7 linked regions of the Homo sapiens genome follow. Changing the gene in region 5 together with the main gene of any one other region gives a genetic interaction. Each region holds a gene or a part of one and is shown on either strand. Other genes may lie near its edges.

The links.
Region 1: changes in PTP4A3 (region 5) and MYOM2 together harm fitness less than expected from each alone (positive genetic interaction), as found in Homo sapiens cells (one study listed by BioGRID).
Region 2: changes in PTP4A3 (region 5) and NPEPPS together harm fitness more than expected from each alone (negative genetic interaction), as found in Homo sapiens cells (one large-scale study listed by BioGRID).
Region 3: changes in PTP4A3 (region 5) and DTWD1 together harm fitness less than expected from each alone (positive genetic interaction), as found in Homo sapiens cells (one study listed by BioGRID).
Region 4: changes in PTP4A3 (region 5) and DDR2 together harm fitness more than expected from each alone (negative genetic interaction), as found in Homo sapiens cells (one large-scale study listed by BioGRID).
Region 6: changes in PTP4A3 (region 5) and MAPKAPK2 together harm fitness more than expected from each alone (negative genetic interaction), as found in Homo sapiens cells (one large-scale study listed by BioGRID).
Region 7: changes in PTP4A3 (region 5) and POU2AF2 together harm fitness less than expected from each alone (positive genetic interaction), as found in Homo sapiens cells (one study listed by BioGRID).

Annotation. Positions count from the first base shown.
Region 1 is NC_000008.11:2,089,723-2,093,867, forward strand, and holds part of MYOM2 (myomesin-2), read left to right. Parts: intron 1-285; coding exon 286-469; intron 470-2,623; coding exon 2,624-2,798; intron 2,799-4,145. UniProt on the Homo sapiens protein: Major component of the vertebrate myofibrillar M band. Binds myosin, titin, and light meromyosin. This binding is dose dependent.
Region 2 is NC_000017.11:47,536,963-47,541,107, reverse strand, and holds part of NPEPPS (puromycin-sensitive aminopeptidase), read right to left. Parts: intron 1-4,145. UniProt on the Homo sapiens protein: Aminopeptidase with broad substrate specificity for several peptides. Involved in proteolytic events essential for cell growth and viability. May act as regulator of neuropeptide activity.
Region 3 is NC_000015.10:49,637,600-49,641,744, reverse strand, and holds part of DTWD1 (tRNA-uridine aminocarboxypropyltransferase 1), read right to left. Parts: exon of another isoform or gene 922-4,145; intron 1-921. UniProt on the Homo sapiens protein: Catalyzes the formation of 3-(3-amino-3-carboxypropyl)uridine (acp3U) at position 20 in the D-loop of several cytoplasmic tRNAs (acp3U(20)).
Region 4 is NC_000001.11:162,775,177-162,779,321, reverse strand, and holds part of DDR2 (discoidin domain-containing receptor 2 precursor), read right to left. Parts: intron 3,671-4,145; coding exon 3,479-3,670; intron 3,187-3,478; coding exon 2,952-3,186; intron 743-2,951; coding exon 593-742; intron 1-592. UniProt on the Homo sapiens protein: Tyrosine kinase involved in the regulation of tissues remodeling. It functions as a cell surface receptor for fibrillar collagen and regulates cell differentiation, remodeling of the extracellular matrix, cell migration and cell proliferation.
Region 5 is NC_000008.11:141,422,608-141,426,752, reverse strand, and holds part of PTP4A3 (protein tyrosine phosphatase type IVA 3), read right to left. Parts: intron 1,706-4,145; coding exon 1,613-1,705; intron 1-1,612. UniProt on the Homo sapiens protein: Protein tyrosine phosphatase which stimulates progression from G1 into S phase during mitosis. Enhances cell proliferation, cell motility and invasive activity, and promotes cancer metastasis.
Region 6 is NC_000001.11:206,691,048-206,695,192, reverse strand, and holds part of MAPKAPK2 (MAP kinase-activated protein kinase 2), read right to left. Parts: intron 1-4,145. UniProt on the Homo sapiens protein: Stress-activated serine/threonine-protein kinase involved in cytokine production, endocytosis, reorganization of the cytoskeleton, cell migration, cell cycle control, chromatin remodeling, DNA damage response and transcriptional regulation.
Region 7 is NC_000011.10:111,279,953-111,284,097, reverse strand, and holds part of POU2AF2 (POU domain class 2-associating factor 2), read right to left. Parts: intron 2,701-4,145; coding exon 2,658-2,700; intron 23-2,657; coding exon 1-22. UniProt on the Homo sapiens protein: Transcriptional coactivator of POU2F3. This complex drives the development of tuft cells, a rare chemosensory cells that coordinate immune and neural functions within mucosal epithelial tissues.

The sequences.
Region 1 (4,145 bases), about 140 Mb from region 5:
ATGTATTGATTCCCTTATGTTTTCTATGGTTTAATTATTTACTTTAATGGAAAAAAATTTATTAGTAAACATGATCAACTTTGGGTATTTGTGACTTCCTTCTCCAAATTGGCATCATGTTTCATAAAACTCAAAAAAGATGCATGACCATCCTTTGTGTGCGAGACGCAGCGGGCGCGCCTGGTGGTCCTGGGATAGCGAGAACAGAGCATTTCTTCCTCCTCCACACGCCTCTGGGGACCTCGCGGTTTTCACTGCCAGTCTCGTTTCTGTTTCTCTTTGTAGTCCGTGGTGGGGAGCGGCAGCTGGCAGAGAGTCAACGCCCAGACGGCTGTGAGATCCCCGAGATATGCCGTGTTTGACCTCATGGAAGGGAAGTCTTATGTGTTCCGAGTGCTGTCAGCAAACCGGCATGGCCTGAGCGAACCTTCGGAGATAACGTCCCCCATTCAGGCCCAGGATGTGACCGGTGAGCTGTCACACTGGGTGGCCCCAAGTCAGGATGGACTAAGAGTGGGGTGACACCAAATAGCCTTAAATTGTGTGAATAAAGACATTAATGTTATAAACGAGTTGAAGTTCAAGTGGACTTAAAACTTCACTTTACGAGAGATTAAGAGCTCTCTGCCATGTTTTGTTTGGTTCTTGACATTTCTCCAAAGCTCCATCTTCTTTTCATGAAACCAGTAAGTGAGTTGAAAAATATGTTTAGGAAACGGTCACTTTTATTGTTTTATTTAAACTTTTAAAAAAACTTTTATTTTAGGTTCAGGGGTCCATGTGTAGGCTTCTTACATAGGTAAACTTGTGTCATGGGGGTTTGTTGTAAAGATTATTTCGTCACCCAGGTACCAAGCCTAGTAGCCATTAGTGACTTTGCCTGCTCCTCTCCCTCCTCCCACCCTAGACCCTCTGATAGTCCCCCGTGTGTATTTCCATCTATGTGTCCATGTGTTCTCATCATTTAGCTCCCACTTATGAGTGAGAACATTTGGTATTTGGTTTTCTGTTCCTGCATTAGTTTGCTAAGGATAATGGCCTCCAGCTTCACTCATATTCCTGCAAAGGACGTGGTCTTGTTCTTTTTTATGGCTGCATAGTATTCCATGGTATATATGTACTGCATTTTCTCTATCCAATGTCATTGACAGGCATTTGGGTTGATTCCATGTCTTGGCTATTGTGTGAATAGTGCTGCAATGAACATTCGCATCCATATGTCTTTATGGTAGAATGATTTATATTCCTCTGGGTATATATGCAGTACTGGGATTGCTAGGTTGAATGATAGTTCTTTTTTTTTTTTTTTTTTTTGGCTCTTTGAGGAATCATGACACTACTTTCCACAATAGTTGAACTAATTTACATTCCCACCAACAGTGTTTAAGTGTTCCCTTTTCTCTGCAATGGTCACTTTTAAAGTAATTCAAATTTTAAGTGCACTAGACTTTTTTGTTGTTGTCTTTTTTTAATTAATGCTTTTTTAAAAAAATTTTTGTTTTGTAGAGATAGAGTTTCACCATATTGCCCAGGCCAGTCTCGAACTCCTGAACTCAAGGGATCCTCCCACCTTGGCCTCTCAAAATGTTGGGATTCCAGGTGTGAGCCAGGGTGCCCAGCCAGGCACTAGAGTTTCTTGCCCATCTGGCTTGAAGGTCCCTCTTGGAAGGTTTCAAATACAAATTACAGAAATTTTGAATTGCAATCCCTGGAGTCATAACTCCTTCGTGGATGGCAGTTAACTAGCATGTAAGCGGAGGCACCCTGGAAATCCCCAGAAGCCTTCACGGGAGGCACATTGGTGTCAGGAACGCGGTTCTGAGTGCCTGGGTGCCCTCCACCCTCTCTCTGTCGTGTTTCCTGAGAAAGCCAGATACGGAAATGAACAAGGTCACGAGGCCGGCTGCCTCCAGGGCATCCTCAAGTTTCTATCTGGCTCTGGTTTTAACTGAAGCTCTTAGAACTCATACCCAGAACCACAGGCTTGACAAGACCAGCTGTCTTTGAGCAAGGCCCTGCCTTCTTGTGCTTTATGACACATATGAAAAATGACAGTGTCCATCACTGAGACACACTGTGGGGTGTGTGGCCCAGGTGGCCGGCACGGAGGACACAGGTGGCCCCAAGGCCTTACCTGACCTCAGTCCGCAGTCCACTAGTGGGGCCTGGCACCACATGACAGGATCTGATGGTTAGGTCATGATCGAATTTTGAGTGCCCCTCGGAGATTTCAACAGATCTGATAAAATTGAGTCTTACTTTCTTAAAATTGGTTAATTTCCAGTCCAAAAAATAGTTGTTACCCGGGTAGCCTCATCCCTGCTGCCAACAGAGAGTCTTTTAAACAGCTCTGATGGGAGACAGGAGGATTCAGGATGGATGTCATCCTGTGTCTCTAGGAGTTGTGTGGAGCTTGGGAAGAGATCAGAGAGACCAGCACCTCCCAATGGCCCTCGGGTGGTCGGCCCGGGGCTCCTCTCCTACTCCTGGACCCCTTGTCTGAATTTCTTCCAAAGCCCCCAGTCTGGCTGTCCAGTTCCCTGTGAAAAGGGCCGGAAGATCTCTGCTGTAGCTTCCAAAGCTCTGATGCCATTTCACCACTCCTTTTGTCTCCTACGAAAAGTTGTCCCTTCTGCTCCGGGTCGGGTTCTTGCTTCCCGAAACACCAAGACGTCGGTGGTGGTGCAGTGGGACCGACCTAAGCATGAGGAGGACCTGCTGGGCTACTACGTGGACTGCTGTGTGGCCGGAACCAACCTCTGGGAGCCCTGCAACCACAAGCCCATCGGATACAACAGGTGCGGCCTCCCTCCCCAGCCCTGGAGTCAGCCTTGCAGGAGTAGCAAGACCGTTGAGGTCCCTGTGGCCCTGGCACAGGGAGTACCATGGCCGCAAGGCTTCTGCGTAAATGAGTCTGTCTTAGCCACACACAAGGGCTGTATAATTTTAAAGTTTGACCACTTGGATGAGCTAGTTACTGCACTTGCTCATGTCGACCGAAACGATTTATTTATGGATGAAAGGAGAGTTCCAGAACCTGTTTTTTTTTCCCCTGACATAATTAGCACTTAGGCCTTTTCTTTGAATAGCAGAGTTAAAAATAGTGACTACGATGTGAAAGTCGTTTTATTTTTTTCGTATTGATTTTTTTGAACTTGAAAGTTGCTTTGTTCATGTGCCTGGTAGTTCTATTCCCCAGCACCTGATGGAGACCCCACCGGGCGCCGACTCTTCGCTTGTGGTGGGGGCAGCCTCGGGGGATGCTGGTTGCTTTGCAGGGGAAAGCCAGTGACCCTGCCTTTGGAGAGACTTGCTCCTGCTGCCTGCTGAGTGTGCAGGGATGTCTGAGGTTATTAGGCTTCTCTGCGATACGCGTCTTAGGAAAATGTCAGCAGCTGTCAGAACCACCCTTGTGGATAGATGATCAATTATGGCTCAGCCATTTCTCCTTTTAAAATCTGAAAAAAATACACTGTAAAAAGTGGTGGCTAACAAGAAGAGATGTCATTGAAAAGAATAACAATTAGATGTTCTTCACAGCCCACAGCAAATGCAGAAAGATCGATCAGAATAAGAAACTTAAAACATGATTCCAGTACAGGGAAATGGTTAGTGAATATTTATTGACTATATATGATAAATAATAATTGCTTACACGGACTGAATATCTATCATACACAAAGCATCTGTGCTAAGTTGTCCACCTAGAGTTTTCCATGTAGTGCCTGCAATAGTGCTGTGGGGTGGGAATTATCATCCCCATCTTACAAATAGAAAAACAAAGTCTTACAGGGGTTAAGGAGGTTGATTAAGACCATAAAATCTGTGAGGTTTCAAAGCCCCAGTATTCGAGCCTAGTCCATCTGACTTCCAAGTCTTGGCCTGTAACCACTGCAGTGTAATTACTGCTAATTAAGTTTTACATACACGGGTTCTTTTAGATAAGAAATGGCATACTGTTGGATAATAGACCTCTGATCCAGAGGAGGCCCAGAAAGTACAAAAGCAAAGGTGAACTCACAGAACAAGTGGCTTTGGCACCACGTGTAGTCAGCTCCTGCTATAATTAGGTGCTGTGACCTTACTGTCGGACTCTACATGTTGAGCTAATTAACTAGAATTGAAAATGAAGGATGTATGTTATC
Region 2 (4,145 bases), on a different chromosome or scaffold from region 5:
AGAAAGTATTTGTGCATTTTGGAAAGGCACCATGCACAACATCCAATTACAAGTACCTTCCAACTCCTCCTGTGTTTAAGGGAAACTCATCTATTTATACTAATGAATTAAGCTGTTTCTTGAATTGTTACTAATTTTTTTTTTCCAGGATACTACCATTTCTGGAAGGGTGGGAGGGAGGAACCAAAGGAACAAAGGTACTTATCTTAAAAATAGAAATCCATTCACATTTTAAAAATTGGTCAGCATCTTGTCTTATATTAGAGATGCACTTATTTAAAAAGTTGACCAATAATGGGATAATCTATGTAAAGTCTCTGTTTTAGCACTTAGTGCTTCATATGTAGTCATCACTTAATAGATGTTAAGACATACACATACACACACACAGGTTAAATTGTGCTCTCATATCATCTAACAGCATTCACCTAACAGTTTATAAAGCTTCTGATCAGAATGATATGAAGTTTAAAAACTATGTATTGTATTATATGGCACTTTGGATATCAGCACATGTGTACTACCCCAAGAAGGTAATTTAAAATATCTGTTTGGACATAAGTGTATGTGCTGACTACAACGCAGTATAACACTGCTCATTGTGATGCTGCTCTTCCAAACAGTAGTGCTGACCTGATGGTGTAGTACATGATTTCCCACCTTTGACACCTTCATGTTAGTAAATATTAGCTGTGTGTTCCACTATCAAAAAAACAGGTAATAATTCAAAGAAATTTCAGCATTAAAATCTTCAGTTTCCCAGTTTAAAACACAAGTGAAACAAGGTTGGCATATAAAAGTGCACTGATAACAAGCTCATTTTCAATTTTTCTACTTGATGTTATTAAAGGATAGAATGTTAGTGTATCCTTGCTTTGTTTCAAACCCAGGATTAAGTCTTCTTGGCCTCCTATATAGACTGCACTTCAACTGAGCCAAATACTAAGTAAGGGCTGTACCAAAGAGGCAGCTTGACGCCTGGTAACAACTTTACAATGGAAGTTTCCTATGAGATAGGGAGGCAGAAATCGGAGATAACATTTTCCTGAATGAGTCTTTACTACAGTCACTCAGGAACATATCTTACATGTAAGATAGTAAGACTCAAGAGGGTTTTTTTCTGATTGTCAATGTCCTGAGATTTCAGTAAAAGAAAATCTCCAGTGTGACAATTCCAAATGCCAGTCTGAAGCCTGAGTCAATTTGCCTAATAAAACTGATTTCACCATTAAAATAGCAATAATTGTTGCCTTGGTGGAACAGTTCTATAATAGCTAAAGACAAGAAGAAGCAGATAATTAGTAAACTCAAGTTGAGCCAAGTTTTCTAACAAGAAACATTGAAAAGAGCCACTTGCAGAAGGTCAAAAATAATTACCATTAATGTAAAAATGCAAAAGGCACAGAATATTGGTATGTGATGTTTGTGGCTACTAATATGCAATTAAAGTTTTAAACTATACATAGGAATAAAAAGGAATAATACGCACCTACCTGAAGAAAGAAGTTACTTCTAGAGGCAGGGTGGGACGAGATGGAAATGGGCTTTAGTGATATCTGTGACATTTTATTCCCCCCCCAAAAAAAGCATGCACAGTCTGATGAAAATGGGGCAAAACGTTAACATCTGTTTAATCTCATAGTGTGTGACTTTCTTGTATTTCTAAAATATTTCCTAATTTAAAATAAAATTTTAAAGAGATTACAAGTGACCAAATAAACCAAGGACCACATACTTGTATGGTGTTCAAAACGAAATCACTAAAATCTAGAGAACTAATCTCAGTTAACAAAAGCCATCCGAAGGCTCAGATATTTCCCACTGACTCACATACAGATTAGAGTAAGATTTACTTCACAATAAGAGCAGGCTCATTTATGTGGCAAAGTTCGGAGAAGCTTCACAGATAATTTACTACTCAAGACCACATTTACCCAGGTTGTATCAGAGTATCAGTTGTATCTAGAACCAGGAGGCTAAAAAGAAAAAAGAAAAAAAAAAAAAAAAGGCCTAGATGAAAAGCCAAAATAGGTGATACAAAGTCCGTACAATAAAACGCATACCCTTTACTCAGAAGAGAATCCAACAAACTCTCACACAGCAATTGATTTTTTAGCCCAAACAAGCTTGTTTATCTGGCTACTAAGGCTTCTTCAGATGAAGTTCAGTAAAATACAAGAGGGAAGAAATTGCACAACAGGCAGCAACAAGGCACAATAAGCAGCAAGAAGAACATGAGAGTAAGGAAAACAAAACAACTTTAAAGAACAGATACAGGCTGGCCGGGTGCGGTGGCTCAGGCCTGTAATCCCAGCACTTTGGGAGGCCGAGGCGGGTGGATCACAAGGTCAGGAGTTCGAGACCAGCCTGGCCAATATGGTGAAACCCCTTCTCTACTAAAAATTCAAAAATTAGCCTGGCATGATGGCAGGTGCCTGTAGTCCCAGCTACTTGGGAGGATGAGGCAGGAGAATCGCTTAAACCCGGGAGGCGGAGGTTGCAGTGAGCTGAGATCACGCCACTGCACTCCGGCCTTGGCGACAGAGCAAGACTCTGTCTCCAAAAAAAAAAAAAAAAAAAAGAAAACAGATATGGACTAGGCGCGGTGGTTCATGCCTGTAATCCCAGCACTTTAGGAGGCAGAGGCAGGCGGATCACCTGAGGTCGGGTGTTTGAGACCAGCCTAGCTAACATGGCGAAACCTGGTCTCTAGAAAAATACAAAAATTAGCCAGGTGTGGTGGCATGCACCTGTAATCCTAGCTACTAGGGAGGCTGAGGCAGAAGAATCCCTTGAACTAGGGAAGTGGAGGTTGCAGTGAGCCGAGATCGCACCACTGCACACTCCAGCCTGGCCTAGGCAACAGAGTGAGACTCTGTCTCAAAAAAAAAAAAAAAAAAAAAAAGAACAGATATGGCTAGGCGCGGTGGCTCACACTTGTAATCCCAGCACTTTGGCAGGCGGAGGCAGGCAGATCACCTGAGGTCAGGAGTTCAAGACCAGCCTGGCCAACATGGTGAAACCCTGTCTCTACTAAAAATACAAAATTAGCCAGGCGTGGTGGTGCATGCCTGTAATCCCAGCTACTAGGGAGGCTGAAGCAGGAGAACTGCCTGAACCTGGGAGGCGGAGGTTGCAGTGAGCCGAGATTGTGCCACTGCACTCCAGCCTGGGCAACAGAGCGAAACTCCGTCTCAAAAAGAAAAAAAAAAGAAAAAAAAAAACAGATATGAAACTGATAAATTATAGTACATAGTTTGGGGTCAATGAGAGATGTTCAAAATAAAGTTCAGTATTTAAAAAAAACAATGAAACAAACCTACACTATGAGGAATTGCAAAGCATAAAAAGATAATGTATTTTAGAAATATTTCCATTCAGATTAGTCAACTTTTTTTTTTTTTTTAAAGACAGGGTCTCGCTGTGTCACCCCGGCTGGAGTGCAATGGCGTGATCTCAGCTCACCGCAACCTCCGCTCCTCCGCTTCCCGAGTTCAAGCAATTCTCCTGTCTCAGCTTCCCGAGTAGCTGGGATTACAGGCATGTGCCACCACGCCCGGCTAATTTTTGTATTTTTTTGTAGAGACGGGGTTTCACCATGTTGTCCAGGCTGGTCTCAAACTTCTGACCTCATGATCCACCCACCTCAGCCTCCCAAAGTGCTGGGATTACAGGCGTGAGCCACCACACCCAGCCTAGTAAACTTTTTTAAAAATGTCTAAGGGCCTCAAAGGGTAAACTTCAGTTATCTGGAAAATTCACTGCAGAATTCATTGCCAGATGAATTAGACAAAGCTTAGCATACAAAACTGTTATACTTCTTTCCTCACAGATACATTTCAAAAAACAGAAAATCTGAACAAATTCAATTCCTTATCACCAATATTTTGAATTTAATTTTATATATATGAATTTTTTTTAAGAAAATTTCTTCCTTTTTTTTTTCCTGGAGACAGGGTCTTGCTATGTTGCCCACACTGGTATCAAACTCCTGTGCTCAAGCAATTCTCCCACCTCCACCTCCCAAAGTGCTAAGATTACAGGAGTGAGCCACAGTGTTGGCCAAAATGATTACATAGAAAATATGCAGAAAATGGCCAGGCACGGTGGCTCATGCCTGTGATCCCAGCATTTTGAGAGGCCAA
Region 3 (4,145 bases), on a different chromosome or scaffold from region 5:
GTCAAACAAACAAACAAACAAAAAAACAGAACTGGCAACCTAAAATTGTGAACCCAGCAGAACAACCTATCACGAAAAAAGTGATAAACATTTAATAGACAAATGAAAACTGAACATACGCCAACAAGAGACCAAATTAAAGGAATTCCTAAAGGATGTATTTGATAAAACACTGAGTAAAGAAAATGGTAAACATCTATGCAAATCCAGATAAATGTTGCCTGTATAAAACAAAAACAATAATAATATCTAATTTGTAGACTGACAATAAACGACAGACAAAAATAATGATATTAACAATAACAATGTGAACCAGGAGGAGGCTGAATGAAGCTTCAGCATACAAAGTCCATACAATGTAAAAAAGGAGAGGTTAAACATTGTTTGGCTTTGAACTTTTTAAGTGATATGGGCAATTCTCTAAAATAATTGAAATAGGAATAAAAATAGAATAAGAAAAAACCTCAATCAAAAAAAGAAACAAAAATTATAAAAAAGGACAAATAGAAATAAAAATTAAGATGGTAGAAAGTAGATCCAATTATTTCAATACTCACAGCAATTGTAAATAAACTAAACTTAATATTTAAAAGACATAGATTATCAGATTGAAACGTGAGAAGGATGACCCCTACAATTAAATAACTGGCTTCAATTAAATATTGCATTAGAGGTCTTTCTTATTTAACATAGTAATAAAGAACAATAAATTAATTAGAAGGATAAGAACTGGAAAGAAATGCAATTGGCATTACTTACACAGAAAATACAAAAAACCTCAGGCAAATCATTAGCCACATAGTATCTTGCAGAAGAGAAGGATTCAAACAAGACACAAACATAGTGATAAATTCCACACTAAAAGTTTTTTTTCCTCAAAAGAAAAGAAATTGAAAAGATGAACCACAAACTGCAAGAAGATATTTTGCAACATTATCTATATTCTAGAATATACAAAGAATTTCTACAAATCAATTAAGATAAAACACAGAAAAATGGGCATAGATATTTCACAGAATAGGACACGTATATGGCCAAATAAACAATGTAATTATCAATCCTATTAGTAATTAGAGAAAAGTAAATGAAGATGACAATGAGACACCATTTTAAAATACTAGGTTGGCAAAAATCAGACATTTGATAATACCAAGGTAGGAGAGATTATGGATCAATGGAGCGCTTATACATTAATGATGGAAATATTCCTTTGTATGTCCACTTTGAAAAACAATTTGGCATTATCCTGTAAAGGTGAATATTCTCATACTCAACAACTCAGCAATGTGACTCCTAGGGATGTTTCCTAGAGGAGCTTGTACTTGCACAAGAATGTGTGTAGTAGCATTATTTGCAATAGGAAAAACTAGAAATAACCAAAGTGTTTCATTAGCAGGAAACCAGATAAACTGTAGTATATCACAGATATTATTCAGCAGTGAAATAGAATAAACTATAGCTACAGTGATATGACAATATATATAAACCCTAGAAACAAAATGTGACTTTAGAAAGCAAGTCCCAAGAAAACAACACACAGCTCAAAATAAAGCAAAACTAAATCATATATAGTTTATGAAAACATATATATAACACTATAATCTAAAAAAGCATAATTCAGGAAAATAACTGTCAGGGGAAGAAGGGGAATGGCACAAGGGAAAACATAGGTAAATGGAAGTTAGAAATACTGGTGCTTGAGTTCTTAATTGTTCATTATATCACTATGCTTTATAACTTAATGTTACATATACGTGTGTGTGTGTATATATTATTTCATATGTATCACAATTTATTTAAAAATATAAAACAGTTAAAAACAAACAAACAAAACCTCTTTGCTTATTTAGTGAAGGAATTGGAGCTTGAAGTCATGTCCCAGCCCAATTCTTTCCATTAGACTTAAAATACAATCTAATCATGTCAATGACAAGCTTAAAAATTTTTTAATGATGCCACAGCACTATGGATAAAAGAACAAATGCCCAAGCATGCTGAATAAAATATGACATTCATAATTTGAATTTCTCCAGTCTCTTTTACCATTCTCATATATGTATGCATTCTAGACAACATTAAATATTTCAGTTTCTTGAATGCAAAATATTTTTTATACCCTAGTATTTCTAACAATCAGTAACTTTATAATAAAATTATAGTAAAAATCGTAAACATTTTTTCTTGAGGTGGGATTTTGCTCTGTTGTCCAGGCTGGAGTTCAGTGGCATGAGCATAGCTCACCGCATCCTTGAACTCCTGGGCTCAAGCAATCCTCCTGCCTCAGTCTCCCAAGTACCTAAGACTACAGGTGCACACTACCACGCCTTGCTAATTACTTTATTTTTTGTTGAGATGTAGGCCTTGCTATGTTGCCTAGGCTAGTCTAGAACTCCTGTGTTCAAGTGATACTCCCACCTTCATCTCCCAAAGTGCTGGGATTACAGGAATGAGCCACTACACCTGGCTCAAAACTAGTAAAATATTTTAGCAGTAGAAACTTAAAGTAGATAATTACAAATGGCTTTTCCTTCCAAAAGTGCTGCCTCAGTTTCTTCAATTGCAAAGTGAGGGTGACATCCTTTACCTCATATATTTGATGTGAGGATTGAATAAGGTAGTATAGGACACAGCACTCACTGACAGGGAGTGTAGTTTAGGCAAAGCTTATAATATGAATAAAGTTATCACTTTAAAAGTTGTATCAATACAGTCAAACTGAAGGGAAAGAGCTGGCTAATTTTTATAACCAATTACAGTATAATGCCATTTAAATATAATTTGGACTCACATCCAACAAAAAGAAACAATGTCTCCCCCTACATTCTGCCAAGGCTTCCTATGATAAATCTTTAAGAATGTTATATCATTCTTCACCTGTAGGTTTAGGTTTACCTTTTATAATTAAATTAGGCACTCTACCTTCAAGTGTTTTATTTTGACACTGGTAGAACACACAGAGCTATTTTTCTGTAAAAATTTGGCAAAACAGTAAGGTTTTACATTGTTAAAGGGATTCTTAACCTCAGCATTCATAGTAAAATAATGGAAACATAATTTCCAATACACCTGAGGGTTTAATTGAGGTATAGACTCAGTTTGTTCAGATTAATCTCACGAAATGACGAAGTTTTAAAGCCTAAAGCCAACAATTTATAAAAACCATGGATTGTTTCTTATGGAAGTAACTCGGTTTATTCAGAAATCAGTATTTCACATATACAGAGGTTATAGATATGTATAGAGCCCTAATTGTTTCCTGTGGTGCAATGAAGAGCCACAAAGGACAGGGGTTGAAGTAGGTCATGCAGAAAACTTGCCTTTAGAAATCTGTTCCTTTTATGATTTTAAAGAGATTAAGAAGCCCCTTTAAAAATTTTTGATCTAGCACAGAACTGAAATATATGATACTTTCCATGTGAATTGGGAAGGAATAACAAAAATCTTTTGTACAAATCTGATTTTAGGCAAGCCAAATTTGGACACTCTGAAAAGAGATTTTGAATAATACCACAATAATTCCTTTTATAGTTTTGTCAAGGGTTTTTACTTATGTTTTTTCATTTATCTTTTCAATTACCATATAAGGTAACTATAAAGAAAAATGGCTCAGAAAAATCTTCAAACTGGCAAGTAACCTGCTGCTGTAAACATCCACAGGAATGTGGCAGGCAGTGTTCCCTTTCTCTCTTTCAAAGAGCACAGCCTTAGGGCTTAGGCGTTTGTCTTTCTATCAAACATCGGCAACAAAATTTCTTAAAGATCTTATGCTCCGTAGTACCTGCCCTTCACTCTCTCCCACACACATAAGACACAAAGCGCACACAATTAGACTTTCAAAGCAACTTTACTAATGTGTATGAAGATCTCAGATGCATAAACTATATAAATTAAGCTCGTTAAATCTAGTGTTGTCACTCACTTCAGCTTGGAATTAATGAACACCAATCAGACTCCAAAAAGTGTCAAAATGTTCTTTTCTAGATAATGCACATTTTTAACACTAGCCTGAGAGAAGCTCTCCCAGTTTGAAACAAACTGTTTTAGCAACTGCCTAATATCAACTGAATAGCTTTCTTGCCTTCTAATCATACATGGACAAGTAAAGTAACTGTTTTAAATCACTATTATTAGGAACCAAGTTTTTC
Region 4 (4,145 bases), on a different chromosome or scaffold from region 5:
ACCCAAAAAAAAGCTTGGAGTATCTTGGCTAGGAATTGAGACTCCTGGGGAGCTTGGGAACTCATCTTTCCCTGAGTCCTGAGATGTCACAATACTGGGCCCAGAGATGCCTTCCAAGAGCAACAAGTTTAGGATATATCTGCCCATTTTCAGACATCCAAGTCTAGAAACATTGCTAGATAGTCAAAACCAACCCCATTTCTTATACTAAGCTATATTTTTAATGAATGCTAATACATCCCTTTTACACTTTTATTTTTTGACCCAGAAGAAAAACCACATGGTCTAGATCAAGAAATAGATAAATCATGAGAGATAGGACTTTGTTTCCTGCTACCTTTGAGCTGGGGAGAAACCTGACATGACCCTTTATGCTCTCCAAGAGTCAATGAGTTGACACATAGATAAAGCAAAGTGTATGGATGCCTGGGGAGGATACTGGTCTTTCACATCATCTGGATAGTTAGTGACAAAGACTAACACCTGGATAGTCTGTCTTCCATCTCGGCCCACTCCTGCTAAGGCAGGACTTGCCATTCTCCATCCTTCAAGGTACACAGGTCCACATCCATTCATCCCCAACAGTTCTTACCTGCCTCCCTTGGTCTCGGAAGAACTCTCCAGTATTCTCAATAACCTGTTCATCTGACAGCTGGGAATAGGGCTGTTCTTGACAAAAGGTGAAAGTCTCCCACAAAGTAACCCCAAAGGCCCACACATCACTTGCTGTAGTGAACTTGCCCTATTTAAGTAAAGAAAAGAATGGGAAATCAGAATAACCTGTGCACAACAACACCCTGTTAAATTTCATAATCTGCAGCTATACCCCTTCCCCCACCACAGGCAAGGAATTCTGAAAATGCCAAGATGTGCATGGAGTATTTAGAAACAGCCCATTCTTTCATTCTCATGATCTCAGCTTGGTTCTGTTTCTCTGGGGATGAGATCCAAGAGCTGAAAAAAACGCAGCCATAAGCTATTTGACTCTGCAACTGAGTGTTAGGTCAACCTTTCAACTCTAGGGTAGCCTTGGGAAAATGCTCCTGAGAAAGGCAAAATCTGAATGGGAAGTCAATGGTTTTTATGTTAGAGATAGAGGAATCTAGTTTAAGTGCCTGCAGTGAATCCAGGACTCTCATTTACCAGTTCAGTGATAATCACAGTGTTGAAAGATAGACTTTAACAAGTGACAGCAATGAGATTCAGGTGTAAATAGCATGCATTGACTACTCACATTTTCTACTCAATACAGACAACCACACTGTGAAGTGGATGATATTATTTATTATTAAATATTTTTTCCTTTGAGAAATGGGGTCTCATTATGTTGCCCAGCCTGGAGTGCAATGGCCAGTCACACGTTTGATCTCATTACTGATCAACACGGGAGTTTTGACCTCCTCTGTTTCTGACCTGGGCTGGCTCATCCCTCTTTAGGCAACCTGGTGGTCCACTGCTCCTAGGGGTGACCATATTAATGCCAGACTTAGTGAGGACACCCAATTGTCATAGCGCAGCGCAGCCCAGATTTTCATCCTCCTGCCTCAGCCTCCTGAGTAGCTGGGACTACAGGTACATACCACCATGCCAGTTATCCTTATTTTTTAGATCAGAAAAATGAAACAGGAGAGGTTTCCCAAATTCTTCTGGTTAATAAGACCATTAGTAGTGGAAAAACTGGATTTGAACCAAGGTCCTCTGAATGTCAGTCTAATATATTGTTTTGAACACCATATAATACCTTTAGGGAGAGTAATGCCTAACTATCCCATTAGAAATGGGTAAAATATAGCAATTCACATATATAGGTGAAAAAGATCTTTATAAGGATTTATGTAAACTGGTGTACATCACAGCATCATTCATAATAGCAGGAAATTGGAAAGTACTTAAATATCAAATTATAGAGGCATTATTAAGTTATAGTATATATCTACACATGGAATATTATGCAGATAATAAAATGTTAAGTTAAAAATAGAGATAGAGAATTGTATGGCATAGTGTCATCCCAATTATGTAATATAAATTACATATATGTACATATGTATATAAATGCATGCACAGAAAAAAAATTGCATGCATAGAAAAAATATATGTATAGAAAAAAATCCTCTAAGAAAATATACCAAAGTATTGATAGTGGTTATCCTGGTGAGTGCAAGGGAATAACTATACATTTTTTATTTCAAAATTAATTTACAAATCCTATAAGAATATTAGCAGGAAATAAGCAGATTAATCATAAATGAACAAAACCAAATTGGTCTCAGACTTTTCTCTGCAATGTCACACAAGAAAAAAGATAAAATAACATGTACATGGCATTGTAGGAAGTAAAAGTGTATAGTCTAATGAGTCTATAAATCAGCTGAGTGGTTATAAAATCAACAATAAAAAGTCTCAGGTATGCATGGACAGAAAATATACCTCTAATAGAGATATTTGGGAAAAATTACTCACTTATGGTATGGAATATCAAGAATCAAATAAAAATTATAAAGCAAAGAATGATGAACTTAAAAAGAACATGTTGAAAAGTATTGAAATACAATTATAGGAATTAGTCTATGTAATTATGAGAAACATGCTTATGAAACTAATGGAGAAGAAAATATTTTGTATAGGTAACATTTCTTTAAATGATAAGGTTTTTAATATCTTAAATTAAGAACAATCACTAGGTAGAAATGATAAAGAGAAACAAAGATAATAAATCTCTTATACTTTTTAACTTCTCTCCCTAAATTTTTATGTGTGTTAATTTTTTAGCAGAAATAGGCAAGCATTAAATAATAAGAATTAGTACACAAAGAAAATAATTTCAAATCAGAGAAAATACTACAGTCTATTGAGTTTGCCTCCTGCTGTCTCAGGTTTGTCTCCACGTGTCATGCATGTGAGCCCACAAGCCAGTTGTTAGACAGGGCTTTAAAATGCTGAGAACTTACCAGCAAGATACTCTCCCAAGACATCCAGCGGATAGGGAGCACTGCCCGGCCCTGGATCCGGTAATAGTCACCACTGTACAGGTTCCTGCTCATTCCAAAGTCAGCTATCTTGATTGTGTAGTTCTTACCCACTAAACAGTTTCGTGTGGCCAGATCTCGGTGAACAAAATTAAGAGAGGAAAGGTACTTCATGCCAGAGGCAATTTGGGTAGCCATAAACTTCAGATTGGTGTAACTGAGGAAATAGACAAGAAGACAGAAGGTAGCCTATGGAAACAGGAAGATGTGAAAGGTACACATTCTAAAATGGTATCAACAAACTAGGGTTGAAAGCTCAACATTCTTTCTCTACTCTTGATGAATCCCTTGCGTTTCCCCAAAGGGCAGCTGCTCCATTATTCCCTGCACACTGACTTCCCCCACCATCCCAGAACATTGATACACTTTAAGGCTCACTGCTCCCTATTTTCAGATCCCAGGTTACTCTCATGACCACAGGGAGGAGAAGGAAGACCTGGCTTGTTTACCTGACAGTGCGTACATCGCTGGAGGAAGAATTAGGGGGCTCGTGGCGGGAAAGAAACTGATTGAGATCTCCATTCTCCATGTATTCAGTGATCATACAGAGAGGGTCATCAGTGATACACACAGCTAATAGATGGATGATGTTTGGGTCCTTGAGCCGAGACATGATCTTTATCTCCTTAAGAAAATCATTCCTTGGGAGGATACAGACATAGATAAACTCAGAAGTTGCCAGAGTCAGAATCAAGAGAGAGAAGAATGCACACCAAGGCCTATTCCTGGACATTATGCCAAATCTTGTTTCCCTTTGGATAACTTTTGAGAGGACAGAGAAATTGACACCTGGATCTGTCTCATTCTATTCCTCCTGAAATATCATGGGCCCTTATTCAATTGTAATGTTTTTGAGAACAAGATCCATGACTTATTCACATTTCTATCCCTCACATCTAACAAAATCCCTGCCACACAGAAAGTGATTAATATTTGCTGAATCAAAAATAGGCTGCTAAAAACCACTCTACAGAGTAAAATGTTTCACTGAAAATCATATCTTAAGTGCACGAGGATATTTACCTTTTTTTTTTTAAAGCCATGGAGTCACTCTATTACTAGTGAAGAAACTTTGTATGATGTGAACAACCATCTTTGGCTTATCTGATTACTCTT
Region 5 (4,145 bases):
TTCAGACTCCTCATCATTCCCTGTACACTGCAGCTATCCCCTCCTCCAGGAAGCCTTCCTGGACCACCCCACCCCTTTCTGAATAGAGCCTGCTCCAGAGTCGCACAAATCCTAATCCCCACACCTGTCAGCCCGAGCTCTGGTTCTGGGGTCACAATCCCTCACGCCTGTGTGCCGGTGGCAGCCTGAGAGGTTTTGGGTCGGCTGGTGCAAAGGGTCTCATCCCCTGTGCTGGCATGCAAAGATGGCTGGCACATGCCACACACAGCCCAGGTGCCAGGAAGGACTGAAGACAGGGCTGTGGGGCGAGACAGGGCCCACATTTCTGAGGGCAGGACTCGAAACAGGCGGTTCCACCGGGCCCCGGCCCATTGCTCCTGGGGGTTAATTTGGTCTTGGAAGATGACCTGTGCTTCCCACTGTCCCGTCCCCCAGCGCCCTAGATCGGTGGGCAACGTGAGTCTTCCTAGGGGAGGGCCCGGGCCAGGGCGCTGCAGTAGGAGTGGACACGTTTCAGTCTTGGGAAGGCGGGTTCATGCAGGGACTGTGCCAGGCATGGGGCTGTCTGGTACCAGGGAGAGCCCGCTGGGCCCACTGAGGCAGACACACAGCCCTCGGGGGCATCTCACCCCTCCCCAGCCTCCAGGCAGGGCAACTCCTAGAGACAACCGGTGTCACGGCTACTTACGTCTGACCCCAATCCCTCCCGCTGCTGTGGAAGGGGAGGGAGGGTGTGGGCGCACCCCGTGCGAGAAGCGGGGACATGCCTTTGCCTCCCATTCTTCCAAGCAGCCTCGCTTTGAGGTGAGGAACCCAAGGCTCGGAGTGACCTGCAGGGTCGCAAGGCTGGGGAGGGCAGAGGCGGGACGCAGCCCAAGGCCTGTCTGACCCCAAACCGCCAGCGCTGCCACCATTCCAAACCGCCAAGCTGAGGTCACAAAACTGCAACCCCAGCCAAAAGCAGAGTCCTGGGATGAAAAGCAGTGACTGAGGGGTGCTCCGCACTGAGGAGACTGAGGCCCAGGCGCAGCTGGGCAGGCCTGCACCAGGGGGGCAGTCGTCCACCGGGCCGGGGGTGGACCCCCCTGGGGCTGGCTCTGGGCCTGCAGCTGCTGTGGCCCACCCCCCCAAGGATATCGCAGCAGAACCGCCCCACCCCCCGCCCAGACCTGGGTCCCCAGGGCCAAAGAAGCCGAGGAAACTGCCCAAGGGCCCTCCCCAGGAGCCTGCTGCCTGGCAACAGGGCCCCAGCCGCCCAGGCAGCAAGACTGAGATGCACCCAAGACAGGCCCAGAGGAGGGCCTGAGACAGGCAGAGGAGCCCACCCGCCACCTTGGCCGATGCACCAAGCATGTGCCACCCCTGCCTGGCGAACCGTGCTGGCCCACCCTAGAGACAGAAAGACGGGTGCGCAAGGGTGACTTTCTTGAGGTCACACGGCCCAACACCCTGGCCTTCCCTTGATGTACCCAGACACACACGTGGCCCAGGCACAGACATGCCCAGGGCTGCCACAGGAGGGGCACCAAACCCTCTGCGCAGGCCCGGAGCCCCCCGCCCCACCCTCCCCCGGTGGCAGCAGTGACTAGGGTCCCCGTGGCGCGCGCCTCACCACAACGGTGATGCCATCCTTCTCCAGCGGCGTTTTGTCATAGGTCACTTCACACACACGCACCACAGTGGTAGCCCCGTACTTCTTCAGGTCCTGGGGGTGGGAGGACGGAGGAGGCAGGGCTGGGCTGGGGCTGCAGGGCTCAGGGGGCAGGACCCACTCACCAGGGCTCCCAGGGCACAGCTGTGTCCCCCACAGTCACCCAGGACTTGGACATGTCCCCTCAGACCTCTCGGGGTGGAGCCCTGTCCCCTCAGTCCCCTGGGGCAGGGTCATGGCCCCTGAAGCCCCCAGGGAAGGGCATGTCACCCTCCAGCCAGGCAGACCCTGATGCAGTGAGGTCCACCAAGAGTGGACTTCAGGCTCCACTACTGGTCGAGGTAGTGTCTGGCTGTCGAAGAGCCTGTCCTAGGTCCCTTGGGCCACCCAGCAGAGGCAAAGGTGTCCCCACCTACATTCACGGTAACTGGCAGCTGGGACCCCAGCTGCCCAGCACACCACTCCCTCCTCTGGGGTGCTCAGGACCCCAGATCTACCAGCAAGGACATTTCTTCCAGAAAAGCTACTGGGTCCCCACAGCAGGAACTGGACTCCCCAGCCCACGTGTGAGCCCCTGCATCCGAACAGCGACCCCAGCTGAGCCGCAGGGATGGGTCCAGTTTTTAGGGTCTAAGAGGGGCGGGCATCAGCTGGGGCGCCTCAGAGCAGGGAGGGTGGGCACCGCTCAGATGGCAGCCAGGAGGAAGCTGGGCCCTGTACGCCAGCAGGGAAGCCCCACACGACCAGGGAAAAGGTGGTGGTAGTTCACAGCCAGGCCGATAGTTATACCCCCACTGCGGAGGATCCACTCCACAGGGGTCACGTGCGGGGGCTGTTCCCACCCCACCTGCTCTCGTAGCTATTTTGGGAGGGGTGAGGAATCAGCTGATGGGTCTTGCTGGTCACGGGACAGGGACCTGGAACACAGAGAGGCCAGCACCCAACTATCTGAGAATGCAGGGAGCAGGCAGGGTGCTGGGCTCTGTGGCCATGGGGTACCTCAGAGGCCCTCTGCACCCTCAGCAGAGGGAATGGCCACCCAGCCCACGGCTCAGCCCTGGCCCTGGTCACAGGCTGAGCCCTTCCTGATCCTGGTCACACACTGAGCCCTGATCCTGGTCACGTCCTGAGCCTTGATAGTCACACACCTCTGAGCCCTAATCCTGATCACGTGCTGAGCCCCCAACCCTGGTCACACATTGAGCCCTAATCCTGGTCACATACCGAGCCTTGATCTGGGTCACACACTGAGCCCTGATCCTGGTCAGACACTAAGCGTTAACCCTGGTCACAGGATGAGCCCTCCCTAACCCTGCTCACCTACTAAGCCTCAATCCTGGTCACACACTGAACCCTGATCTTGGACACACACTGAGCTTCGACCCTGGTCACATACTGAGCCCTGATCCCAGACACACACCAAACCCTGGCCCTGGTCACACACTAAGCCCTGATCCTGGTCAAACACTGAGCCCCAACCTTGGTCACATACTGAGCGCTAATCCTGGACACACACTGAGTCCCAACCTTGGTCACATACTGAGCCCTGATCCTGGACACACACTGAGCCTCAACCCTGGTCACACATTGAGCCCTGATCCCAGACACACACCGAACCCTGACCCTGGTCACACAGAGCCCTGATCCTGGTCAAACAGTGAGCCCCAACCTTGGTCACACACTGAGACCTGACCTTGGTTACAGACTTAACCCTGATCCCAGTCATATTCTGAGGCCTCACCCTGGCCACTCACCGTGCTGTTCTCGCCAATCTTTCTGTAGATGCTGCTGTTATCTCAGGGGTCTCAGCTGCGAGAGGGACAGCCATCTTCTGTAGGGCACCTGGCTCAGTGTCCAGGGTCCAGGCTCCCTGATGGCAAGGTGCCCAATGCCTCCTGCTGCTCTACAGTTCTTAATGCCCTCTCACGCCCAAATCTGTTTCATTATGACAAGACCATGATGGCTTATCTCATGTCACAGGGGAAAGGACTCAGCCATAAATGACCCTGCACACAGCTGCAGCCTCTCACACAGCCTGGCACAGTCAGAGGCTCTGTCAACGGCCCCGCACACAACTGCAGACGCTGCAAACGGCCCCAGGCCTGCAAACAGCAGGGCGTTCTGCAGAGGCCAGGCTCCTCCAGGAGGCCATGCAGGTCGCTCCAGACTCCACTCCCAAGAAAGCTTCTGTAAACGCATCTCGTCCCATCTGCCAGGGTTGCCAGCGGCAGGTATCTCTGCTGCCTCTCCAGGGCACAGTGGTCCCTCCCTCCTGTGGTCAGCGCTGACCCTTGCTCAGTCCCTCCTCACACAGAGATCTGGGCCCTGAAGCCCCTAGTCCAGCCTGGTCTAACCTGAGGCCTCATCCAGAGCCCAGCAACATCTGGGACAGCAAAGGGCTCGGGAGGGCCCCAGCCCAGGCCACGGCTGAGCACGCACAGCCTGGTCCATGTATCCCCCTGCCTCACCCCCTGCCTCTATCCACACAGCGTGG
Region 6 (4,145 bases), on a different chromosome or scaffold from region 5:
AACCTAATTTTATTTTCTTTTAAAGTATCCGAGCCCAGGTAGCCAAATCAAATGCATAAAGTCAGGAAAGTCTGAGACCCAGGAGAGGGGGCACTGCCACCCTTCCTCCTCCTCTCTGTGAGCACAGGTCACTAAAGCACATCAGGGGAAGAGAACACAAAGGGTATGAAGTCACTAAGAGTCGCAGGTGGGCTCTGCTGGAAAGGACATGATGCTCGTGAGCCTGGCAGTCAGAGGGAATGACAGCACTTGGCGTGTCTGCAAGCGCAAGTGTTTCCAGGGCAGGTTACTACATATGCTCATTTTCTCCCTGTGGCCTCCCCATCTGCCAGAGATCTGGGTGCCTGTAAGGATGTAGAAGGTATGGGATGACCCCTTGCTGGGCTGTCCAACTCAGCTGTGCAGCCAGGCTGCTCTGAGCTGCAGGGCACATGCAGCCTCCTCATCAGGTCACCTGCATTCCTAGAATTCTCCAAGTTCCAGACACACGGCCTTTAGTGTCCAGGGCTCTCCCCGCAGGACCCTTTGAGCTCTGCAGAAGCCAAGCATGACGAGCAACCTGCAGATTCCTCACTTAGAGAAGCTAGCCTTCTCCAGCTCCCGTGAAGCCTGGCCTTTAGAATCCTACTAACCTTCTTCTAGGAATCACAGAAGCCAAGGAAGGCAGTCGGGATAGGGAAAGACAGAGGGTATGGCTATTCTGAGGACAGGGGCTCCTTCTGTCAGAGTTAAAAATAAACACTTAGCAACTATGCCCAACTCTTCCTCTGCACAGGCCAATGGGCCTTGGCAGATAAATCTTTCCTTGCAGAGGAAATGTGGCCCCAGGGGAGAGGTGGGAGAAGGAGGCCATCGACACATGGTCAGAGTATGTAACTCTAGCTGAAGGCAGTGGGTTCCTCAAGTCCTATGTCTTGGTTGTCATTGCCATCACTCTCCACCATACACCCCTTCCCCCAAATAAACCATAATTCCTGAAAGCAGACATAGAGCCCTCCTAGGCCACGATTAGTATCAACACCTGTCTAGGGATTAGAAAAAATCAGAAAGAATACTAACGCCACGCTGAAGAACAGAATGCCAATGTCAGACTCTGCCCAGTATCTATCAGCTAAGCAAATATTCTAGCTACCTGAGCCCCTTTCCTCATCTTGCTCCACAAGTCTCCAGGATCCCTGGGGAGTAGAGGAAGAGGCCACACCTCCATGGACACACATCAATACTGCAGTCAAGAGGTAGAAGAAACCCATGCACTCGGTGACATTCTGCATGTGGCTGAGCTGGAAGGGCCAGAGGTGCCATGGCCTGACTCAGGAAGGAGATCCTGAGAGCCAGGGCCCAGTTATTCTTGGACGCTGACAAGATGAGGTCACACTTTTGAATGTGGTAGCCCAAAGCCTCACACTGCGGAGGTGGAGAATATAACGTAGCAACAGGGCAGGAGTACACGGTAGGTAGCATGCTCGGTGACAGGGCAGTCGGGTTGAAGGCCTGGGGCAGACTGCCCATGTGGGGCTGTCCTAGCATATAACTATGGTAACTCTGTTACCATAACCAGGTAACTCTGGCAAAGAGGCCTGCTTGGAGGTAAAACTGGAGGAAGCCAGGGCTGGAGGCGAGCACAGTAGAAGGTCTGATCCACTCTGATGAGCTTGGTCACTCTCCTTTTTGTCTAACCCTTTCCCTACTGGGAAATAAGCAGGACAGCTTCACGGAGCTTTCATACACACAAATCTAGACACCTGGAGACATAAAAACCATAGCACGTCTCCCAGCACTCAGAAGAGTGAGTTAGCCCCAAATCACCTACCAAGCTCAGGCTGGAAGAGAAAGGGGCAAGCAGGGAGAATATCAGCAGAAAGTGAGAGAAACAGGTCAGCGGTGTGGCAGGAAGCACTGGGACAGCTAACAGGGCCTGGCTGTGAGGGGAGACTGCAGCAGTGGCAGGTTTATTTTTAGCTGTTCGGCAGAGGGGCTGAGTAACAGTTCTGGGCCCTGGGCAGGAGGCCAGGCTGCTAAGGTCCGGTGTGTACTGAGAGCCTCCTAACAATGTGGATCATTAAAATGGCAGCAAACGAACAACTCGATCTTCTCCCTGTAGACAAGCAGGAGGATAAGGAGCCCCGCCGGAGGACGAAAGTGGAGGAGTCGGCAGGGGGACAGTCAGTAGATCTCCTGTTCAGCCCCTCCCCTCAGAGAGACTTCACCTTTGCTTCTGGTTCAAAAGAATCTTCATGGAGATGAGCCAGAGAGAAGGCATCAACAGTACAGCTCCCTCAGCTCCCTCATATGCTCTGAAACAGAAAAGGCTCCCATCGGGTGGCCACTAGCTTCCGCCTCTGGCCACCACTCTTCACCTCTAAGATGAGTCCTGGATGGACACTGGCCACAGAGATGCTTGGAAACGTCCCTCAAGAATAAGATGCCCTTTCATATGACCCTTTTGGAGGGCTCAGGTTCCCAGCAGAATGAGCGCACAGCTTGGCTGGTCTTGGAGGAGAACACCAGATACAAATATGGGCTGACCTTGGGGCCTTGTCCCAGCTCATTCTGGCACACAGAGGTGTTTACTGATCAGACAATAAAGACCCCAAGAACCTTTCACTGCCAGAGGCCCAGCCCAACTTTATGTCTCCTTCTACTGTGGCTTTCTTCCTCCTCCCACCAAACCTGATGGCCCAGCACACAGGACCCCACAGTCTAAACCTCCGGGGCTGAAACAGCTGCTCTAGCCTTGCATGGGCAGGAAGAGGAGGAAAGAGAACAGACATCACCAGGCAACCCCTTTTCCTCCTGCTTCCTTGGATTCCTGATATCTCTTCTTACTCAGCCTGGTCTGAGGGGCTGAGGGTCACCTGAATGTAAATCCTAATTTCCTCATCAGCTCTGTGAATCAGTCCCCAACTCTAACCTAAGAACAACCCCTAATCCATAACCATACCTTTGGTGAATTAGAAGGCACTCCTTTGAAAGAACCCAGCCACACACAAAGACAAAGCCAAGCAAGGAGACAGTGGCTGGACTTCAGCCTTCGCTTAGCTCCTCAACCAGATCCCTGTGCACAGGGAACAGCCTGCACCAGAAATCACAGTGGCCCTCAAATGCCCCATAACTTGAGAAAGGAATCTCAAACAGGGAATAGAGTTCCTCATCTCTACTTTGCACCACCACTACACTATGATTCTTCTGATTTTAAGGAAAGAGAAGATGCACACCCTGCTAAATTACGTAGTCTATCCTCTCTGCCGAGTCACCAGCATAGAACACTTTCTAAGTCTTCACACAAGAGAAGGAGCAGCTGGTCAGTGATGATTATTCATTAACTGGACACAGGCTGCCCTGGAGCCAGGCACTAAGCTTACGAAAGGGCATCTGTGCTGACCCAGATACTGCTGATGGTCAGACCCGGAGCAAGTCAGCAAGCTATCCTGCCTGCCCTCCACCTCTGGCCTGCAGCACCGCCTTCTACTGCCTCACCCTGCCGGTGCTCAGGAGCTGCTCGAGCCGACCCTCTGTGCAATGAGGCCTGGAAAGTTTAGCTGACCTATTCAAGGTCATGTAACTTGTTAGCAGCATACAAACACTGGAAGCTTTCTATTTATGTATGCACTTATTTTTGCTTTCTTATCTAGCACATAACCCATGGTAACAAGCTCATCTCTACATATCTATATCTGTGTATGTGTGTATATATATATATATATATATATCTTAAAATACAAAATACCAGTATTTTCCTAAAAACTAGAAAAGGTACACAGCAATCTGATTTGGGTTCTATAACTGCCATACGTTATTACACTGTCCAGTGACATGGCCCCTTCTCTTCACCAATGCCCCCATTTACAAGGTAACCCATGTGGAAAGATCCTAGCTGATGCGTTAGTGGAGCTCAGTTTTGCTCCACCAGGTCTACAGTCTTCTAGCAACCAAAAACCAAAGGGGCCCAGACCAAGAGCAGGTCCCAGGGAACCAGGTCTCAAGATGTGGCTCGGATGCTGACACCATGTAAGACCTTGGACATGCCACTGAACATTTCTGCACTAGGCCAGCTTCTTCCTCAGTGATGTGCAAGGAGTCAAGAAAGATGACCAGGGAGTGTGGGTTCTAAGTTACTATGAAGTGTGGGTTGCTTTGCCACTGGG
Region 7 (4,145 bases), on a different chromosome or scaffold from region 5:
TAACCTGACGTGACCGGCGAACCTGTTGCCAAATGAAAAACACATGGGCAGAAAATTCCTCCCAGGGCGGTCAAGGCCTCGGTTGCAGCTGAGTCTCTGCCTGGGAAACGATGTTACTAACGCGTGCCTGACTCCAACGCTAACATGGAAATAGAGAAATGTCTTGAAAAGCGTGAAATATTCCTGCATTAGCCCAAATAACTAACGTTTGAAAACATTGTCGCCTTTAGGGGTGAGTTCATTTTAGACAGTACCGTGTCTGTTCATTCATTCACATTTACTGAGTACCTTCCCGGTGACCGGCGCTGTGCTAGGAAGACATAAATGAAATAATCTCTTGGCATTCATATTTTAACCAAGGAAGCATCTTTTTCACAACATCGGAGCTACCTCTCCATATACATAGAACTGTTAACAAGAGGTGCTCCTGGCCTGTTATCTGAGATCGCTATGTCTGGATAAGGTAACACATATAACCCCACCTCAAAGAGGCAGGCTGTACTCTGCCTTCTAATTCTTCACACATTGACCTTACACTGGGTCGCACGCCTGGCAGACATCAATAAATGACTTTCTTTAGGATTAGATGGCCACACAGAAGCCAATTTTAGAGGCCTGTAGTTTTAGGGTTTTGATGAGTTTTATGTTATTTGCTGCCCTCTTGTGGCCTCATGGACTCCTTCACTCAACTCACCAGGGCCCAGCACGTTTAGGAAGACAGTGCCGGCTACATAAAGTTTCCCTTGGTGGTGCAGGCTCGGTGGCTCACACCTGTAATCCCAGCACTTTGGGAGGCCCAGGCTGGCGGATCACGAGGTCAAGAGATTGAGACCATCCTGGCCAACATGGTGAAAACCCATCTCTACTAAAAACAATACAAAAATCAGCTGGGCCACCATGCCTGTAATCACAGCTGCTGTAGTCCCAGTTACTCAGGAGGCTGAGGCAGGAGAATTACTTGAACCCGGGAGGTGGAGGTTGCAGTGAGCTGAGATCTCGCCCAGAGCAAGAGTCCGTCTCAAAAAAAAAAAAAAAAAAAGTAAAAAGTTTTCCTTGGTGGAGAGAGGGAGGGACAGAAACTGATAAGAGCTTCATTTAAGGTAAGCCCAGCAGTGAAATGGTTTCCAAGGAAAAAGGTGTGTTTGCTCAACACTTTCTGACCCCGTAGCTCAGTTGTAGCAGAAAACACTGATCATTCAGAACATGTTTGAGGGCATAGACTTGAGGTCTATAAAACTGATGGTTTAATTGTTCCAGCTGGCCTTGGGTGTGATCTAATGCTAACACCAACACCCTTAGGTCATAGGTCACAAAAAGGCTGAACTGGGGAGAAGATATAAGTGCCTGTCTTCCTTACCTTACCCCAACCACAGCAGCAGACCACTTCTGAGCTTCTGATTCTATAGACACAGAATTCCAGCCCGTTCCACAGGATGTGGCACTTTATATTATGCTCATTCCTCTTTCACCTGAGTCACAATGATCTTTCCAGTCAACCTGCGAGCCCAAGGGGGCAGATCTCATGCCTTATACATTTTCTTTAAACCTAGTAGTATAACATTGTGTTCAAGAATGGCATGTGAATTTATTCATCCAGAAGAAGAAATCAAAATTCCCCATCAAAACCTGTGGCACGACTCCACTCACTTCACTTTCATCTTACATTCTATAACTTCTAACCTGCTCATGCATTTGAAAGCTGAAGTTAGGGTTTTCATTATAAGCATACTTCCTTGGGAAAAAATCTGTGCAGCTGAACCTTAATATAAATAAATAAGGTTCTGTTTCATACAATGAAATTATATTTATGAGAGCGGTTAAGGTTGAGAATATGAAAACAAGGTTTCCAGGCTCTCATCTATACTCCCAATTTCCAAATCAAAACAACCACGAAGAAAAAAGCCTCTGCTCTCTTAGCATGGATTTTCTCTGTACAAAGAGAAAGGATAATTTCTAGATAAAGAGAAGCTATGGAAATTTTTCTTTTTTTTTTCTGTAGAAGGCAGGAGATGCCACCAAATTTCAATGGCACTATATATGATTGGGAAACAACATACAGACATTTAAATATTCGGGATCCTCGATTGCTCTTATTCCTTTCCCTTATCCAGCTCTGAAGGTGATAAAACTATTAGGGAATGTGCCGCGTCTGAGTTGAACTAAATGAGATTGTCTTTGCCTGTGTGGTGTGTGTTTATACAAGAATGTCCAACAGTATTATTAGGAATTCCCCTTTTACATCCCCACAGGAGTATTTAATGAGACATAGGCATTGAAATGAATTCAAAATACTGAACCAAATGCCTGACTCCCTCTGCTCGCAGACGGCTTTCCCCTTTCTGTTTGAAAGCAGATGCCTCATCTATCAGATCATGGTGTCAGAACTTTAGACAATTTAAAACTGTATCAAGGGCATAATTTATATTGCCTTTGCCCCAAAAGCTTGGGATAAAAGGGCTGCTTTCAAGACAAAATGAATTTTAAATTCAGAAATTACTGCATGAGTTCTGTCCTTCGCTGATTTTGTATTTTAGACAAAACTATTTTAAAGGAGCAGAGTTTTGGAAGTGTTGTAAGGTCGTTATGAAAGAATGGAAGCCCAGATGCTTGATTTAAATTCAAAAGGGAATAATTGCTTATTGAATTAAAGTACTCACCTGGCATCTGCACAAATGGAGACTGAGAGGAACTGACGCTGCCCTGGAAGGTAAACAGAATTCAAGTGTTTTCTTTAGTTGTAAGTTTGAATTTAATAAAAATTAGGAATACACCTTATAAGCTTGGTTTTATGATATTCAGAAGTATTATCTGGGGAGTTGGGTTGACCCTCAGGTCAACTGAGAATAAGAATTCAAGTACCATAGAACAAAGTTTTACAAGGGACAAAGAGCAACCACACTTTTACATTTTGATAAACATGCCAGAAAGCACTGGCTGGATGAAATGTAGTAATTTATCCTTCATCTTCTACTGTTCCAGTTAACATTCCCTCATCCAATATATATTAAGTGACTATATATACGCATATCCAGTAGCCTCCCCTTACCCACGAGGGATATGTTCCAAGACTCCCCAGTGGGTTCCTAAAACTGAGGATAGCACCACACCTGATTGCCATCATGTCCTCCACCCACAAACTCAATGCCTTTTCCATCTTAGCTAAGAATTTATCATGCATTGTGGCCACAGTTTTGCAGTTCGAGGTGCAACAGCAAAACTCGCATGAATTTCTTTCGCCTTCTTCACAATTTCACAGACAAAAGATTTGTTCTTACCATACCAATGTCTGACCTCAGCATACATTTTTTTTCTTTCCTTATTAAGTTGAGAACGTTTACTTTTTCATTTAAAGGAAGCACATTCCGGCTTCTCTTTGGCATATCTAAATTGCCAGTGTCACTACTCTTGTGCTTTCGGGCCATTGTGAAATACAATAAGGGTGACTTGAACACAAGCACTGCCATACAGAGACAGGTGATCCAATCACTGAGTCGGCTACTGAGACACTAACGGGCAGGTGGTGTAGACAGTGTGGATTGGCTGGACAAAGGTAAGATTCAAGTCCTGGGCAGCACAGAGTGGGACTGAATGAAATTTCATCACACCACTGAGAAAGGCATGCCATTTAAGATCTAGAAATTGTTTATTTCTGGAATTTCGCATTTAGTATGTTCAGACTGCAGTTAACCATGAGTAGCTGAAACCTCAGAAAGGGAAACCATGGCTAAGGGGCGCCTACTGTATGTGTGTATGTGCATACATGCACTTAGTGTTTGGCTTCAGCACTGAAGGGCCACTTCAATGTTTACTGTCTGAATCCATGTGGAGGAAGAAGCTCCACCAACTGTAGGGACCTTGACTGTGATGTGCCCTCAGTGCCTAGAACAGGGTGTAGTTCATAATAGACGTAAGAAAAATATGTGGAATGAAGACACAATCTTCAAAGAACCCACAGGCTAGAGAGCAGGGAGAGGTTGGGGAATGTGGTGGGTTGCATTATGTGCCCCCTCCAAAAGATATATATATATATATATATATATTTTTTTTTTTTTTTTTTGAGATGGAGTCTCACTCTCTCACCCAGGCTATAGTGCAATGGCACGATCTCGGCTCACTGCAACTTCCACCTCCCGGATTCAAGTGAT